Linked DNA regions of Homo sapiens: region 1 is linked to region 2. A link means that fine-mapping ties the variant in region 2 to the plasma level of a protein whose gene starts in the linked region. Region 2 holds a variant in brackets. A gene starts in the other region. All regions are shown on their reverse strands.

Region 1 (9,397 bases), not on the chromosome of region 2:
CTTCACCCATCCATTCATGCTTGGCACCCACCTCCCTCAACCCATTTCCAACACTTTTCCTTCAACACCTGAGAGATGACTCGAGTTATTACAAAGCGCCACTCTATTCTAGGGCTAGAAGCCAGCTCCCTGTGAGGGTCTAGAGATGAGCTTGGACAAGGGTGTTGAACCCAACACTCACCCAGAGAAAGCCTACATGTTTTTGATCAGGGAAACCCAGACCAGGTGGTGAAGTGGCTGAGTCAGACTTGGGACCCAGTGTTTTAAAAACAGTGGAGTGAGAAAGCCTGACTTTTTTTGTTTTTTTAAGACGGAGTCTCACTCTGTGGCCCAGACTGGAGTGCAGTGGCACGATTTTGGCTCACTGCAACCTCCACCTCCGAGTTCAAGCAATTTTCCCTGCCTTAGACTCCCGAGTAGATGGGATTACAGGCACCCACCACCACACTCGGCTAATTTGTGTATTTGTTAGTAGAGACGGGGTTTCACCATGTTGGTCAGGCTGGTCTTGAACTCCTGACCTCAGGAGATCTGTCCGCCTTGGCCTCCCAAAGTGCTGGGATTACAGGCGTGAGCCATTGCACCCGGCCAAGCCTGACTTTAGAACTGGCTAGGATCTGCCTTCTGTTTGTAGCTGAGGGACCCTAGGCAGGAAAGCAGGAAATCTCCCACGCTGGGCCTCAGTTTCTCCTCTACGAAGTGGGCATAATGATAGCTCATCAGGCTGTTTCGAGATGAAAAGAGACATGCCCTATTTAGCACACGGTGAGACCCCTATTCTTATTCCTCTTTGCAGGAGACGGCTGCTGCTGTTCCAGTCTCTCCTTAGGCAGACTTGAGTTTCTACCCACTCTTCCCAAGCAGCCGCCCCTCCGCACCCGAGCGAGCCAAAGACCTGGCGGGCTGAGTACTCACTGCGCGCTGGACACATGCTGAGCCGGCACTGCAGGGACACAGGGCGAGCCGCTGGATGCAGACCTGTGGCCGCGGCAGGTGAGGGCGGTGGCTGGGAGGCTGACCCAGGGGGCCACATTTTTATAATTGTCCCGAGGCGCGGCAGGACTTTCCCGGGACTCTGGTCTCTTGCTTTCTGTCTCCTTCTGTGTCTCTCTCTACATCAGCTTCTCGGTGACACGTGCGGTGCGGCCGGCCCGCGGGGCTTGCGGCGCTTTCGGATTAACTCCCGGGGTGCCCGGCCGCAGCCGTTCCGGGACGGCCCCGCCGCCTCCAGCTCGGCCCAAAATGAAAGCGAAATGTTCGCAGTTACTGCGCGGGGTCCACAGGCGGGCGGGACACCCCGCCCACCACCCTGGGTCCCCGGCCTTAGCCGGACGCCCCGTGTCTAAGCTACCCCGCCCCGCAGCTGTGCAGCGCCCCCTGCCGACGTAGAGAGAGGAGTGCCTCCCACTTTGCATGTCCTGCGTAGGGATGGGCCCTAACCACGACCTCCAGCCTAGTACTGGAAGGGGTAGGCAAATCATTCACTCATCATCGTTCCTTTAGATGGCTCACTAGATGCCAGGCCGACGTTGCACCAGGTGCAGGACACCCAGGGAGAACAGGACCCTTGGGGCATTGCCACACTAAATCAGACTCAAGGCGTTTTGTTCACAGGTCTTTTCTGAAACCTGAAAAGGGATGAGAGCTGGCTGACTCTGCAATTATTACTCTTGTAGAGAATCCAGTTTAACGATAGGATGAATACACAGAGTCCTGGGAGGAAAGACCTAGAGAAAGAGCCCACGCTCAGCCGGAGCAACGGGGTCCAGGAGTCAGCAAAGGCTCCCGGGAGCAGGCAGGGGCCCCAACCTGAGTGTTAAAAACAAGCAGGCATTAGACCGCTTCCAGCGGGAGGGCACGCAGGGTCTAGCCAGGGGAAACAGGGATCAGAAGCGCAGTCATGAAGGGTTGAGGGAGGTGGGGGTCTAGGTGTCCTTGCAGGGTGTGAGGCTGGAGGGCTGGATGGGGCCATGCCATGAGGGCAGGGGATGCCATACTAAGGAGTGTACTTTCTGTGCTGAGAGTAGTGGGGAGTCTTCCTGGGTTTTAGGCGGGAGATGTGGCAGAATTTGCATGATGGGGGGATCCCTTCAGCCACAGCATGAAGGATGGATCCAGGGGTCAGGAGTAGAGCAGAGGGAAGAGTTGACAAGGTGTGGCCAAGTCCTTATTCAGTATGGAGAACACAGGGTGGGCAGGAGGGACTCTCAGAGGGCTTGTGGGCCAAGGCTTGGTAGCTCCTCAGGTGAGCGGGAGAGGAAGGCCCTGAGAATGGGGAATGGAGATTGTTCTAGCTTTACAGGGATTACTGTATAAGAGGACTGAGTTTGGAGGAGATGGTGAGAAGTTCCATTTTGGATGTGCTGGGTTTGAGGTTCCTGTGGGACTTTTTAGTTCAGTTGTTTTTCCCACAGGCATTAGTCACCCTAGGCGTGGGTAGTGGGGAGGATGTGTTTGATCTCTGACTTGGAGCTTCCAAAGGGCCTGACTACACCCAGGCCCTAGGACCTAATAACTGGAGCTGCCTTCTGGGTGGCTCATCTGCTCGAAGCTGATGAAGCACGGCTGTAGGGAGTTTTAGGTGTGTGTAAAATAAGAGAAATGGTTGATCTCTAAGGCCCCTTCTAATGCTGCTGTCTGAGAATTCCCCCACGGGATACAGAGTAATCCATTGTCAGAAACAATTGCGTTTAGCAGTTTGTCTAGAGCAAATGACAGGTGCAGAGCTGTGTTGTGGCCACAAGGGTTTAGTGTGGAGTTAAATGTACTTAAAGTCAGGATGAAGACAAGTGTATCACAACTGAGCTGTTTCTCCCCTGGAAGGGCCATCTCCTATACAAAAGTAATTTCTGTTGCTTAGATGAGCACAGGGCCACTGTTAAAAATGGATTATTGGCTACCAGACACAGTTTCTAATTTACATTTTTGTGAAATAGTTTCCTGAAGTGCTCCATGTCCTCTAGCTAAGATGAAATGAAAACCTTCTTCTAGGAATACATGATTTTTCTATAAGTGACAGTCTTAGCTCACAATCACTACTTCACAGTGTGTAGCATTGTCGTGGAGGTCTCGGCCAATGCTATAAGGAAAGAAAAAGAAATGAGAGCTTTAAACATTGGAAAAGAAAAGGTAAAACTGTCACTTTTTACAGTTGATATACAAAAAGAAAAAAAATTAATAGACTATTAGAACTAAGAAGAGAATTTAACAACATCATGCAATACACATATCAACTTAAAAAAAATCAGCCGATTTTCTTTGTATCTGCAACAATCCATCAGAAAATGTAATAAAAACAAGATGACATGCATAGAAGCAGCCAAACTATAAAGTAACTGACTGTAGATACAGAGGCAGTATAATGGCTAAGAGTATGGACTAAACTATGTTAATCCAGGTTCTGCTACTTACTTGCTGTGTGTTCTTAGGTGAGTTATTTATCTCTCTGGGCTCAGTTTCCTCATCTGTTAAATGATGATAATAAAAGTACCTACAGTATAGAGTTATTATGATTATTACATGAGCTTGGATAACTACAGAATAGTGTTTGGAGAAAAATTTTAAAGTTCAGTCAAGAATATAGTGTGATTTAATTAAATAATTCTATACCCTTGGGTGGAAGGTTTCTCTATATAGAAAGCTTAAGCCTCTTTTCGTTAATTCACATGCTCAATGTAATTCCAATACAAGCTACAAATAAATTTTCTCAGAAACTTAATAATAAGCCTACTCTAAAATACAGATGTAATAAAATCTATGACTAAGTTAAAAAAATTTTTTTTGAGACATGGTTTTACTGTATCACCCAGGCTGGAGTGTAGTGGTGGCACAGTCACAGCTCACTGCAGCCTTGACCTCCTGGGCTAAAGTGATCCTCCCACTTCAGCCTCCTGAGTAGCTTGGACCACAGGCAACACCATCATGTCCAGCTAATTTTTATTTTTGTATTTTGTAGAGACGGAGTCTAGTTTTGTTGCCTAGGCTGGTCTCAAACTCCTGGGCTCAAGTGATCCACCCACCTTGGCCTCCCAAAGTGCTGGGATTACAGGCGTGAGCTGCTGTTCCTGGCCTTAAGTAAAAATGCTAAGGGAATAATGAAAAGGGGGACTAACCCTATCACATATGGACATAATTTAAAGCCATAGAAATTAAAGTAGTGATCTTTGCAACAGATCAGGCATATGGACCATTGAAACAGAGTAGAGAAATTATAGATAGATTTGTATATTTGGGTATTAAGTATAAGATAATACAGATGATTCCCTGATCAATGAGGAAAACATGCAATATTTAGTAGAAAATACTCAATGGGCTGGGCATAATGGCTCACACCTGTAATCCCAGCACTTTGGGAGGTCAAGGCAGGAGAATTGCTTGAGGTCAGTAGTTCAAGGCCAGTCTGAGCAAAAACTCCCTACAAAAAATTTTTTTAAAAAGAGAAAATGTTCAGCGTATGATGAAAAATAAAACTGGACTCCAATCTAAAACAACAGAGGTGAATCCATTTGGAAGTGAATTAAAGACCAAATGTGAAAAGTAAAATTGTTACAGTAGTAGAAGAAAATATAGAGGACTGTCTTTGTCACTTATAAGTGGGAAGGACTTTTTTAAAACTTCTAAAGCTCCAAACCATAAGGCAAAATACCTATCAATTGGATTACATAAAAATGAAGATTTCTGTTTTACACATTTCCTCTATGCATGAACCAAATGAACAGACAGCTGACAGATTGAGAGAAGATATTTTTCAGTGTCTAAAACCAATATTTTCAATGTCTAAAAACAAGGAACTCTTGTAAGTCAGCAAGAAAAAGACAGAAACACTAGTAAAAAATGCGTAAAGCTCATGAATAAGCAATTTAACGAGAAGAAACCCCAAAGACTAATGAGCATACCTGGAGGCTCAGTTATATCAGAAAATGCAAATGAAAAAAAGAATGAGATATCTCTTTACACCTCTTAGACTGACAAGTTGAGAACACTGGATACTGGTAAGTGTTGGGAAAATGGGGGACTACAGGATCTATTATATCACACCATGCCAGTAGGCTGACATGGCTGTTTTGAAGGGTATTCTGGCATTCCTTGACCAGATTAAGTATATTCACACCCATGACCCAGCTGTTAACCCTGGGTGTATATCCTATGGAGATTCTCATACAGGTCCACAAAGGAACATGTATGAGGATGTTCATTAAGTCATTGTTTGTAGTGATGGGGAACTGGAGGCAATGTAGCTGCTCATTACTGGGGGAGTGGGTGAGTGGAATGTAGGGATCCACTTCATGGAGTATTCTACGGCAGTTAGAAGTAATAGACTAGATGTACATGCAGTAACATGGATATGTATTAAAAATATAATACTGAGTAAAAACAGGAAAACAGAGTAAGATCTCTCTCTATAATGTATAAGTAGACAATTAAAACCCTTTGGGGCTGGGCACAGTGGCTCATGCCTGTAATCCAAGCACTTTGGGAAGCCAAGGAAAGTGGATTGCTTGAACCCAGGAGTTTGAGACCAGCCTGGGCAACATAGGGATTCCCCATCTCCACAAAAAATACAAAAATTAGTCAGGCATGGTGGCACATGCCTGTACTCCCACCTACCAAGTAGGCTGAGGTGGGAGGATCACCTGAGCCCGGAAGGTCAAGGCTATAGTGAGCCATGATTGTGTCACTGTACTCTAACCTGGGCAACAGAGTGAGACCCTGTCTCACTTAAAAGAAAAGAAAAAGGAAAGAAAGAAAAAGAAAAAAATGGGGGGGCTCAGATTTGTTTTTGGAATTCAAAATGCTTGGAATTTAGAAAAGGAAGAGGTGGCATCGCATAATCAAGCATAATAGTTCCGCAGCAAAACATAGGAATAGTTACATTGAGTGGCTAAAGAACCCCAAGTAACCCCTTGTCGCTTCAGTCAGATTTCGCTGTTAAGAATTTAAGAGAAAACTTCTGGTGTCCAGAGCTGTGTAAGTTTAAGAATTGTGAGTAAGTGATTGCGGAACTCTATTGACTTAAATGAGAATGATATATTCAAAATAGTACACATTATACAAAGACACAGACAAAAGGATATATATTAGTAGGATAGATCCCACTGGGGAGTGAGGGGAATGAGAATGAGGACTAGTGATAATGAAAATATATAAATACATTTAGATATTTGTATTTGATGGGGACAAATAACGTCATGGATTAAAGAATATGGTCCACTCCATCCTCTTCATCAGAAGTCCTTTGTCCAAAAGACAGATAGACACCTTCTGTAAGCAGATGACTCAAGGTCATTGTTTGCAAACTTCAATTGCTATTTGGTACATTCAGGTAGTTTTTTGTTTTGTTTTGTTTTGTTTTCGAGACGGAGTCTCACTCTGTCGCCCAGGCTGGAGTGCAGTGGCTCAATCTTGGCTCACTGCAAGCTTTGCCTCCCAGGTTCATGCCATTCTCCTGCCTCAGCCTCCCGAGCAGCTGGGACTACAGGCGGCTGCCACCACACCTGGCTAATTTTCTTGTATTTTTAGTAGAGACAGGGTTTCACCGTGTTACCCAGGTTGGTCTTTATCTCCTGACCTCGTGATCTGCCTGCCTTGGCCTCCCAAAGTGCTGGGAATTCAGGTAGCTTTTATTGTTAGTTATTCCTTTCCCATTCGGTTTGAGCTATGAGTCAATCAGGCATTTTCATCACTGAGAGACAAGGGTCTTTTCAAAAATTTGACAGAATATATTAAAGATCTATTTCTGTGGTTCTCAGTTGGAGATGGCCTTGCTCCCCAGGGGACACTTGGCAATGTGTGGAGACATTTTGAGTTGTCATAATTGGAGGAAGGGGGTTGCCACTGGCATCTAGTGGGTAGAAGAATGTTGCTAAATGCTGCTGAACATTCTACGGTACACAGGATAGCCCCTCACCCGCCCATCCGCCCCCCCAGACAAATAATTTTGTGATTCAAAGTATCAGTAGTGCTGGAAGAGAAACCCTGGCTGATTTGAGTAGATAGCTCGATATGCCTGTCTTCATTGTTATTCTCCCTGACAAGTAGACAAGGTCAGAGTCATAGGACCTGAACAGAAGATTTGGAACTATATCTTTGGTGCCATAATTTAGGGTGGCAGCTCATCCTCAGATGAAGTGAGATCCCAAAGAGGCTTGTGATCAGTTGAGACCGTAAATTTGCATGTGTAGGTCAGCACTGTAAACGTGATTTTCCTTCATAAAATAGCAAGGTCTCTGCTGTCAGTTTTCCTGTGGCTCTTGTCCATAAATGTCATTCAACTTGAGCATAAATCAGCTGGTGCCCACATGGCATCAATCTGGATTCCAATCCTGAGCTTCAATCCTGAAAGGTGGCCTGTCAGGGTAAGAAGCAGAGCTCTGTGTTCCTTGTTGAACACCAACCCCCAGTGTTACATGCTGAGGAGCTTGGTTCTGTGGAGCTCTTTCTTCTTTGCTGACATATCTGAGCAGCAGGGGGAGAAATAGTAAGTGAGCGGAGCCAGAAAGGCTATAGCACTAAAGGAACTTTGGGCCTACGATCAAAAGACCTAATTTCTAGCCTCTTTCTGCTACTTGGTACCTATGTAAGCTGGGGCAAGCCACTGCCTTTCCTAATTTTCATATCAGCAAAATGGAGATGGTAATCTTTTGTTGTGCTAGTTTTGTCACGCAGATCAATTATACAGTGAACAGGTAAGAATTTTGTAAAGTGGTAGAATGTCAACAATATTAGATATCATTCTACAGTGAGTGATAGTGAAATATAGTTATTAATTTTAGATTAAGACACACATACAGTTTCTTCCAAAACTATTTCTTTGCTCTCTTTGAAACATTAAGTGGCAACTTCTCAATAGCGGTGGAGGGGAGTCCTAAATATTCATGACACAGTGTCTGTAGGGAACATCCATGAGCCATCTATCCTGTTTTTGAGAGACTTCAAAAATCTTGACAACGGGCTTCAAGAAAAAAAATCCAGAAAGGTGTCATTTATTACTTATTGGTGCTCCAGAATAAAGATTGTATGAATACTTTTGCAAACTTTTCTGCATCTTGAGACAGTTTAGCAACTTATCTGAATATGATACAACACCTGGGCATTGTAGTCTCATGAATAATTAAGATCATCTGATGCCCAGACATTATAAAGAAAAAAAGGATAAATTTGACTGTAAAAATCAAATATTTTGATTCGTTGTCTATAGGAATTTTGAGTTGTCTATAGGAATATTATAGACAACTTTTAAAGAGAAATCATAACCCAGAAAAAACATTTACATGAACATGTAACAAACCAAGAGCTAATGTCACTGTGTAAATGCAAAAGTCAATAAGAAAAAGGCCAATAATTCAATTCAAAACTGGGCAAAGGATATGAACAGACAGCTCAGAGAAAAAGATACACAAATTACTTATAAACATATGAAAAATACTCAGCTGCACTGATAATTGAATAAATGCAAATAAAAATAATAGATATAATTTTTATCCTGTAGTTTGCAAAGCTAAAAGTTTGATAGTTTGTAAAGTGTGTAAGGGTATGTGGAAATGTGTAATCTAGTGAAATCTATTTGGAGGGATAGTTGGCAATAGCTATCAAAATGAAAAATGCACATACACTTGTTCAGCAATTCTACTTCTAGTAATTTATCCTATAAAACTATTTGCATGTATGCATAAAGACTTATTTCCATTAAAAATATCATTTTTAGTATCAAAAAACTTGAAATGCTTCCAATGTCTTATTAGCAGGAAACCATTTAAATAAAACATGACTCATCTTTTCAAGGGACTATTATGCAACTATCCAAAAGATTGAGGCAGATTTATATATATGACAGGAAAAATCTTCATTACTTGAAAAGTCGTGCAAAATCAAGGTTCAGACTAGTGTATAATATGCTTCCATTTGTACAGAGAAAAAAGTATATTCATGTACAAACACACATAGATACACGTGTAGTATAGATATAAATCTATGCTTCTAAGAGTAGTGACCATTGCCTCTAAAGAAGTAGACTGAGTCTTTGAAGTAGGAGGAAAACCTGACTTTTATTGAATATGCTCTGTACTTTTTGAATTATTTAACATACAAATGTATTATAGCTTCATTTATTTTTGTTTTGTTTTTATTTGTATTTTAACTGCTAAGACAGCTGCTGTAGCCATTCTGACAGCTTTTGAGCAGAGAATTTCCTCTATGTAGCAGCATTCTTGCAGGATTTACCATATGAACATCAAACATTGAGTATGTAAGTGGATTAACTCTCTACCCTCAAGTCAGGGGCTTTGTGTCTGACTCTATCTATCCATCCATCTTTTCATCCATCCATCTATCCATCCATCTATCCACCCATCTATCCATCCATCCATCCATCCATCCACCCACCCACCCATTTGTCTTC
Region 2 (9,628 bases):
GAGATTTATTATAAGAAATTCGCTCATGTGATTATGGAAGCTGACTAGTCCTAAAATCTGAAGCCTACAAGCTGGGGGCCCAGGGGAGCTAATGGCTTAGTTCTAGTCCTAGTCCAAATGTCTGAGAACCAGGAAAGCTAATTTTTTATTTACTTACAAAAGAGTTCTGTGGCTTTTTTTAAAATAACTTTAAGTTCTAAGGTACATGAAGACAATGTGCAGGTTTGTTACATATGTATATGTGTGCCACGTTGGTGTGCTGCACCCATTAACTCATCATTTACTTTAGGTATATCTCCTAATGCTGTCCCTCCCCTCTCCCCCCACCCCATGACAGGCCCCAGTGTGTGATGTTCCCCATCCTGTGTCCAAGTGTTCTCATTGTTCAATTCCCACCTATGAGTGACAACATGCAGTGTTTGGTTTTCTGTCCTTGTGATAGTTTGCTCAGAATGATGGTTTCCAGCTTCATCCATGTCCTTACAAAGGACATGAACTCATCCTTTTTTATGGCTGCATAGTATTCCATGGCATATATGTGCCACATTTTCTTAATCCAGTCTATCATTGATGGACATTTGGGTTGGTTCCAAGTCTTTGCTATTGTGAATAGTGCCACAATAAACATACATGTGCATGTGTCTTTATAGTAGCATGATTTATAATTCTTTGGGTATATACCCAGTAATGGGTTGGCTGGGACAAATAGTATTTCTAGTTCTAGATCCTTGAGGAATCGCCACACTGTCTTCCACAATGGTTGAACTAGTTTACAGTCCCACCAACAGTGTAAAAGTGTTCCTATTTCTCCACATCCTCTCTAGCACCTGTTGTTTGCTGACTTTTTAATGATCGCCATTCTAACTGGTGTGAGATGGCATCTCATTGTGGTTTTGATTTGCATTCAGGAAAGCTAATGTTGTAGTTCTAGTTTGAAAGCCAGCAGACTCAAGACTCAGAAAGAGCTAATGTTTCAATTCAAGTTCAAAGGCAAGAAAAAACAGATGTTGCAGCTCAGAGGTAGTCAGGCAGAAGAAATTCCTTTTTATTTGTGGGCAGGGTCAGCCTTTTTTTCTATTCAGACTTTTAACTGATTAAATGAGGCTAAGCTACATTACGAAGGGAAATCTACTTTACTCAGTCTATCAATTTCTATCAATTTAAATGTCAAACTAATCCAAAACATCCTCCCAGAAGCACATAGAATAATGTTTGACTAAATATGTGGGCACCTCATGTCCCAGTGAAGTTGACACAAAAAATTAACCATCACAGCAAGATTGCATGAAACAAGATCAATATACAAAAATAATTGTATTTTTATACAATTGCAATGACCAATATGAAAATTAATAGGAAAATTCATCTGCAATAGCACCAAAAAGTATTAAATACTTAGGAATAAATTGAACAAAAGAAATGAAAGTTATATGCTGAGAACTGCAAAACATTGTTGAGAAAATAAAGAAGGTCTAAATAAATGGAGAAAACCCTATAATCACGGGTTTTCCAATCCTTAACATTGTTATACTCCCCAAACTGATGTGTAAATTCAACACATTCCCTATCAGAATCCAAACTGACTTCTTTGTACAAATTAACAAGTTGATTTAGAAACTTATATGGAATTAAAAGAGATCTGGAATAGCCATAATAATCCTTAAAAAGAAGAATAAAGTATGAGGACTCAAACTTCTCTATTTCAAAACTTAACTACAAAACAACAATAGTCAAGACAGTATGGTACTGGCATAAGGATAGGCATACAGATCAATGGAACAGAACATTGAGAGCACAGAAATAAACCCATATGTCTATGGTCAACTGATTTTGGCAAGGGTACCAAGACCCTTCAGTGGGGGAAAATGGTCTTTCCAACAAATGGTGCTGGGATAACAGAATAGTCACATGAAAAAGAATAGGGACGTCTATAGAGATTTAAATTAGATTAGGGGTAGTTTATGGCTGAGGATGGGGTCAGGGTGGTAGGTGAGTGCTAGCCAAAAGATAGGAGATTTCATCTCAAGGGGATGAAAACTTTCTAAAATTGCGGTGGCTCACACCTATAATCCCAACATTTTGGGAGGCTGAGGCAGGAGGATCACTTGAGCCCAGGAATTTAAGACCAGCCTGGGCAACAGAGTGAGACCCTGTCTCTACAAAAAATTAAAAAGTTAATACCGAGTGTGGTGGTAGATGCCTGCAGTCCCATCTACTCAAGAGGCTGAGGCAGGAGGATTGCTTGAAGCCAGGAGGTCTAGGCTTCAGTGAGTTATGATTGCAATGCTGCACTCCAGCCTGGCCAACAGAGCAAGACCCTGCCTCAAATAAATAATATTTATATATCAAATAAATAATAAATATAAAATTGTGTAAAATTTAGTATATTAACATATGTGTAACCATTTGTGTGTAACCATGTGAATATATTAAATTTTACACAATTTTAATTTAAAATTGTTACACATATGTAAATATATTAAAAGCCATTGAATTGTATACTTTAAATGGGCAAACTGTATAGTATGTGAATTATATCTCAATAAGGCTATTTGTTTAAAAAAAAGAAGAAACTCTAAATTTTAAAGACAATGCAAAAAATACACAAGGCATCTCATTAATTTTTACACTGATTACATATTAAGATGATAATATTTTATATATATTGGTTTACATAAAATATATAATTAAAATTAATGTCATGTTTCTTTTTATTTTTTAATATGGCTACTAAAAAAATTCAAAATTACATATATGGCTCATTTTATATTTCTATTGGATAACGCTGCTCTAGAGATTTTACACACATTTGTAAAATGTGTGTAAAAAAACACTCTGAACCCTAACTTCCTTATATGTTATAAGGCTGTAATAATAGTACTGGCTTCACACAGTTATGGTGAGGATTAAATGGTTTTAAAGAACTTAGCATTTGGATGTTAGCTTTTATTCTAAGTGTTAGTTCTTATTATCAGAGAAGCCTCTGGGTACCATTGAGTACAGCAGTGATATAAAAAAACCCCAGTAGACACCTTGGATTTATTTTACTATTATAAAATTATTTTTAGAAATGAATCTTAGAAACCATCACATCCAGTAATCACTAACTGTCACCTTGCCAAACTGTTGTTTAACAACCCCCTGGTTTTCAAAACTTGAATCTGAGTATCTTTATTGTGGGACTGCGCTCTCTACTTTGCTGTAAGCCTGACCACTCCCTGTTCCCTTAGCAGAGCCTCACACCTGAGTTACTTCCTTGGTATTGGAGGTATTTGCATTTATACCTGATCCTACACTAGTCCAAGCCCCTCACCTTCCTGATGAAGAAACTGGGGCCCGTGGAAGGGACACTGAGCTGCTAAATGCAGAATTCAGCCTGCAGAGGACCAGGCCAGTCCTCACACAGGCAATGCATTATCCAGAAGACCCTGACTAGCAGGGACTGCAACACAGGCTATTCAGCTTGTATGCTAACACGCTATCCTTGGGAGTCTTGGTGGGACTTCCAGTGTTCTTTAGTTTATTGCCACTGGAGAACTAAATCATTATTGGCAATCATGATACCTTTAATGGAGACCAGTGGATCATTCTGATGCAGAGGGAGAGAAGATGGTACTTGGAACTCAGAAGTTCCAAATAGCCTGGTTTAACATACGCAAAAAATCCAGTTCTGTGTAAATCTGCCAATTAGCCATCTCTGCAGCACTGATCTCCCTTTTATTTCCTTCCTCATACTTGTTTATCAAATAATACTTACCAAAGCTCAATCATCTGATTCCCAGGGTAAGCCCAGAGAGAAGTGTGACCTGGGATAATTAGTCCCATTTCATTGTTGAGGAAACTGGGCCTAAAGAAGACAGGAATGGGAGAGCTAAGCCAGGACCAGAAGAGAGTTTGGCAAAGTTCACTGAATGCATATTTTGTTTTTGCCATATGCAAATACCACCTGCATTATTTAGTTATCTTTCTTTTTCTTCTTCTTTTTTTCTGCTCTGTCACACCAGTGCAGTAGTATGATCATAGCTCACTGCAGCCTCAAACACCCTGTCTCAAGTGATCGTCCCACTCCTCCCACCTCGGCCTCCTCAGCAGCTGGGACTACAGGTACGTACCGCTATGCCTGGCTTTTATTTTTAAGAGACGGGGTCTCACTACGTTGCCCAGACTGGTCTCAAACTCCTGGCCTCAAGTAATCCTCCTGCCTTTAGTTTTTATTTTCCTTTAACAGGCACTTACTGTTTTTATGTAAGTCAACTGATGTTGAAAGGAAATTTTACTTCAATGCCTTCAGTAGAAAACTAGTATCACGTGCCATTAATAGAAGGTTAATAAATATAATACAAAACAATTCTAATTAGAAACCGTTGTCTGGAGAGCTTCTAAAAATCCTAATGCCCAAGCCAGACCTTAGAGCTATTAAACTGGAATTCCTCTGGGGAGGAAGCAATTAGGCATAAGTAATTTGTTAAAGCTCTCCCCAGGAAATAGCATCATGCAGCCAAGGATGAGATCCACTAGAATAGATGCTGTTGCCTGCTAATGCCTCTAAGGCTGAAGAGTGCTTGCCCTCCTTAAGAAGAGAGATCAACAAGTGATAGAGAGGTATTAAAGAGACAATAGGCCTGGCGCGGTGCCTCATGCCTGTAATCCCAGCACTTTGGGAGGCCGAGGCGGGAGGATCACAAGGTCAGGAGATTGAGACCATCCTGGCTAACACGGTGAAACCCCATCGCTACTAAAAATACAAAAAATTAGCTGGGCGTGGTGGCGGGCACCTGTAGTCCCAGCTACTTGGGAGGCTGAGGCAGGAGAATGGTGTGAACTCAGGAGCCGGAGCTTGCAGTGAGCCGAGATCGCACCACTGCACTCCAGCCTGGGCGACAGAGCAAGACTCTGACTCAAAAAAAAAAAAAAAGAGAGACAATAGCCTAAAACCGACACTTTCTCCTTAGCATCAGAAGAACTGAAAAGTAACTTTGAAATGGGAAAAGTTTTCATTTGTAATTTGTTACTGTTGAATCAGTTGCTCCTTTGCAGTCTAAAACCAGCTCACATGGCACTTGCCCTTTGGAAAACACTGGATCAGAAGACCCCAGGTGGTGTGGTTTCTATTCCTGTGCCCTTTCAGCTCCAGCAGCTAGCTTCCCAGCCAAAGACTCCCACAAGGTCACTGGAGAACCCCTACTCACCTCTGTGTGTTCTCCAGCAGGGACTCCAAAATGCCTGCATTTACATCACACTGTCAGACACATC[C/T]TTCTATTTCAAAATGAATCTTCTCAGTGGCTCACATTAAAAACCTTAAGGCAAAACCGCATCTCCGTCTCCTTTCATTTCCTCTCAAGAAGCCCCTTGTTTTCGTCTAGGAATATCTGGCCCTAGAGAAGGCTTAAGTCAGCCCTGCCCTTTTGGATCTTAAAAAGAGGTATAGCTAGGGAAGAGGGAGAAACAGGAGACTCAGTGCAGATCCGCACATGACTTTGAGAGGGTCTTCTGCTGTGAAGTTTCTCTTTCATCCCTCACCTCTGAACACACACAAGACTGTCCTGATGGACGGATGCATTTAGAATGAAAGCTGGACTTTTGGGTGAGGATTCCAGATCTCCATAACATCATTTTCTTATCTGGCTTGGGGCATCACTGAAAGAACTGGGTACCTGCCTCTGTGGACTAGGGTTTGAAGAGCTGCCCCAGAAGGACTACATGGCCTCAAGAGCAAGCAGTTTGGCTCACTAGGCAGGTTGTTGAGCAAACCTCTGATCTGCTTACTTCCTACATTTACAACCTAGAACGCTGACACAGTGCCTACCACCAGATGAGCAGGCTACTTTACTGTCTTGTCAGCAGAATCCTTCTGTCTTGTTTCCCTTAGAGCCTAAGGTTCTGCTTTGAGGTCTCCTCCCTATTCTCCATCTCAAAGTTACACAGTCCCACCTCCTAGCCTTAGCTCTTGTTGTGCCCATAGTCCAGAATGTTCTTCTGCCCCATCCCTGTCTGTCCAAAGCCTACCCACCCTCAAAGCTGATTGAAAATGTCAACTCCTCCATAAAGCCTAAGATGATTCCCCTGGTCAAATAATAACAGTAATGGAATTAACAAAAAATAACAGTAATAATAATAGCCTAGCATTTGCTGAGTACTGCTGTGGGCAGGCAATGGGCTAAGATCTCATACTCATAATCTCAACCAAATCTTATACTAGATGTATCTTATTATCCCTGCCCTGCCATTTTTGATATCAACTTACTTGTTCTCTCTGTGCCTCATTTTTCTCAGATATCAATGGGGATTATAATATGTCTTCCTTGTAAGATTGTTTTAGGTATAAAATAAGCTAGTGTATATAAAGCATCAGCATAGTACCTGACACTATGGTTTTGGCTTAGTGAGTATCATTACTTCTTGTAACAACTTAAAGGTCTGGGTTTGTACTGATAAGGACAGGAGGAAGGGAAATACTGGGTAGAAGAGGGCAGGGTCCATGGCAAGGACTCCACCCTCAAGCCTGGACCCGCAGCCCTAGATGAGAACTTCACATCCCTGTTTTCCCGCTCGAATGTTGCCTTTTCTAAAACCACCCTGGCATGCCACACTTCCCTCCCCACCCTGTACCCACAAAAACTCCAAGTTCCACTGGCAGAGGAGCAGAGCGGTGCAGCAGAGAAGGAGAGAAGGGAAGAAGTGTCTGAACATCAAGAGTAGAAGAGGCAGCTGGACATCGGAGACTATGGTTGGAGAGGAATTTGGCCAGGAATGGCTGAACTCCAGAGGAAGAGTATCTTCCCACTCCATCCCCTTTCTAGCTCCCCATCCCACTGAGAGCCACCTCCACCACTCAATAAAGTCTCCACATTCACCATCCTTCAAGTCCCTGTGACCTGATTCTTCCTGGACATAGGACAAGAACCTGGGTATCAAGAGGGCAGGGTGTGAAAGGCTGTCACCCCAACCCTCCACTGAGCGGGTAAACACTTAGCTGTCTGTGGACAGCAAATGCTAAAAGAGTATTGTTTGTAACACATGCCCCCTTGGGCTCCAGAGGTCATGGACAACCCCTAGACACTGCCACAGGCTGGTACACAGTTTGTTCCTAATGGCTTCCAAAGGCAATCACCCCAGCTCCTGCTCCTGCTCTCCTGTGTGCTCCCCCTCATGCAAGGGGTTTGAGTGCAGTGGCCAAGTAAACAAGTCACCAATGTTGCAAGTCCCATGAGGAGGTCAAGGGAACAATCCCATCTCAGTATTATTCTCATCTTATAGATGAGAAAACCAAGCAATAGAGGTTGAGTAAACAGTCCAAGTTCAGTGACAAGCAAGAATTTTACTTCCCTCTGGTCTTCACTGAACTTTGCTCATCACAAAGATGATGTAAGGATAATCTTCCAGTTGCCATGGGAACTCATTTCATCAGCATCTCAGCCATCCTAGATGATTTGCATACATGACTTTATGCAGAAAGAGAAAGTTAAACTGACTTGAAGTCAACTGGCTCTACTGGCTACTGTCCTTTGAGATACTGTGATATTTGCATTGCATCATGGTTCTAGGGTATCCCAAAGACAGGTCTGCTCATTAATCCTCATACTTTCTCTCATTCACCAAGAATGTGATCCAGCTAGGGAAACAGACGAGAGCGACCAAGGAACGTGCTGGTGGAGCAGGTGTTGAATTCCTTCTCTGCATTTCTGCTCTTCCACTCTTTAATTGCCTTCTGGCAGGATGTTCCTGACTGCAGAGGCAACACCTAAAGCTTAGCCAGCTTAACTGCAGGTCTGCACAATAACAAACCCTTCAGAATTTCAGCACTCATTTCTTCATCAAGGGCCCCAAAATTATGGTTGTGTATCACCTACTCATTTCCTCTTGGTTCAACCTCACATGCTTTCATACTACTGCTGACCATCTGTACATGTTACTCACCCCTTTCCTCCTTTCCTCTATTCAAATAAGCCAGGCTGGGTTCGCACTCCAGAGGTACCCCTATTGATGGTTGGGCAAATAGGATACAGTTTCCAGAAAGAGTGACAACTTTGCTTCCTGGAATCCCTGCACAAAATGCAGGGTCACATATGGCCCTGAGGAGGGATTTGGTGGCAAAGAGATATCTAACTTTAGTAGTTTGAAAGTACTATGGCTAGCTGTGGTTCCAAACTCTCTACCAGGTCACCCTGGGGTAGCATAGTAAATTCACAGGACTGTTGGGAGGTATTTTAAATTTTCCAAGGGAAAGACAGGATCCTCCATATCTGTTGAACACTGCACAAACTCAGGGTTGTTCATGGTTTCAACATTAGATTACGTCATATTCCTTTCAGTGATGGCATCTTTTGGGGAAGCCATGTTTTTGGCAGTTACTGTGACAAAAAGCAAGTGCCACAAGGAAATCAGTGTGGAACAGGAAATGAAGGTGGCAGTGTCCACTCTGATTCCAAAGTTTAAGGAGTTGCACAGTGCCCAGCAGGCCACACATCCCATGAGTAAGTAATTGTGATGATTTCAGAATACAAAAAAATATTTTTTTTGTTTCAATGTATCATTTTTTTTCAAATGGCCAATACAAAGTTTTTAGCACATAAAGACTTTTAAGCGATTTGACCCTAACTAGTTAATCAATGAATCTATTTGGTATTTCTTTTGGCCTACAGATGCCATGAAAAAATTACTGAAGCACTAAGCGTTCTGCGACCAAGGAAGATTTGGAAACTTCTGGTCTGGTCAAGTCAGCCATGTTTCACAGCTCCCAAGAACTTCATTGGTACCTGATCCTATGACAAAGCATACCTGGGTCTTGGTTTTGGTTATCGTGGTTGTTTCATCTCAGAGACTTTTACATATTTTCAGTGCTAAATGTGCCTACTACATGGGGCCTGTGCAGCCATGTGCCTCGGCCAGCACCTGCCTCAGACTCCCTGGGCATCTCTCCCTTTCCTCTGCGCTTAAGTCACACCAACCTCCTTTCCATTCCTCCAACCCGCCAAGCCCTCTCCCATTGTAGGGGCTTCTTACTGATTCTCATCCTGGTTCACCTGTAGGTCCCAACTTAAATGCCACCTCATCAGAGAGCCCTCCCCTGTGATTCTCTGTCTCACCACCCATTCATTTCCTTCATAGCATTTTGTCCTCTGCACATATCTATTTAGCTCTATGAGGACAGAGTCCAGGTCTGATCTGCTTACTACATTCACAGAATTTAGCTGGGTGCCTGATATGTAATTGTCACTCAATAAATAACCGCAAGGTTAACAAGTGTCAGTTTAAATCATACACACATTTTAACTGGGGCCCTGTGCAGCCCAAAGCATTTCAGAAGGCTTTTCTGGCAAACAGCCCATCAGATAGACACGTGGGACAATTGCATCACTAGCCACAGGCAGAGACAGTCAAGGGCGGTGTTTGCGATCAAGAATCCCAGCTCTGCCACCTCCTTGCTGGCAGACATTGGGCAAGTTACTCATTCTGCCTCTACCAGCCATGTCTTTGCTTGGAAAAGGGTTGTTAAAAGGACTAACTATAAAGCTCTTAAGTAAAATCTGTCAAGAAACAAGCACTCTAAATAAAAGTAAGCTGCTTTTATTAGGACAAGGACAGTGTTCAAGGACTATCCCATGAATGCCCACACACCATTCTGAGA

Which allele goes with the higher level. Positions count from the first base shown, and alleles are read on the strand shown. Strength reflects both the effect of a copy and how common the allele is.
As copies of C replace T in region 2, the plasma level of the protein whose gene starts at base 1,255 in region 1 goes down (strong association).

The links. PIP is the posterior inclusion probability: the model's chance that the variant is causal. The UK Biobank Pharma Proteomics Project read protein levels with antibody pairs (Olink). The fine-mapping took linkage between variants from a reference panel, not from the people measured, so its PIPs are less certain.
Region 1: it holds the start of IL12A, and the variant in region 2 is fine-mapped to the plasma level of the IL12A protein (UK Biobank, PIP above 0.99).

What each region holds. Positions count from the first base shown.
Region 1 is chr3:159,980,693-159,990,089 of GRCh38, reverse strand. IL12A (interleukin 12A) reads right to left here and starts at 1,255. Exons shown (of 7, transcript NM_001397992.1): 1 at 916-1,255. The coding sequence starts at 931. It overlaps IL12A-AS1 (IL12A antisense RNA 1), which reads left to right. Exons shown (of 10, transcript NR_108088.1): 9 at 797-993. RefSeq lists enhancers at 995-1,044, 544-1,044, 1,045-1,545, 2,397-3,596 and silencers at 1,165-1,214, 1,285-1,484.
Region 2 is chr5:159,341,735-159,351,362 of GRCh38, reverse strand. It overlaps IL12B-AS1 (IL12B antisense RNA 1), which reads right to left. Exons shown (of 5, transcript NR_037889.1): 3 at 3,758-3,847. Among named protein-coding and RNA genes, the nearest start is that of IL12B-AS1, 15 kb to the right of the region's middle. The variant C/T (reference allele first, on the strand shown) is at 5,254.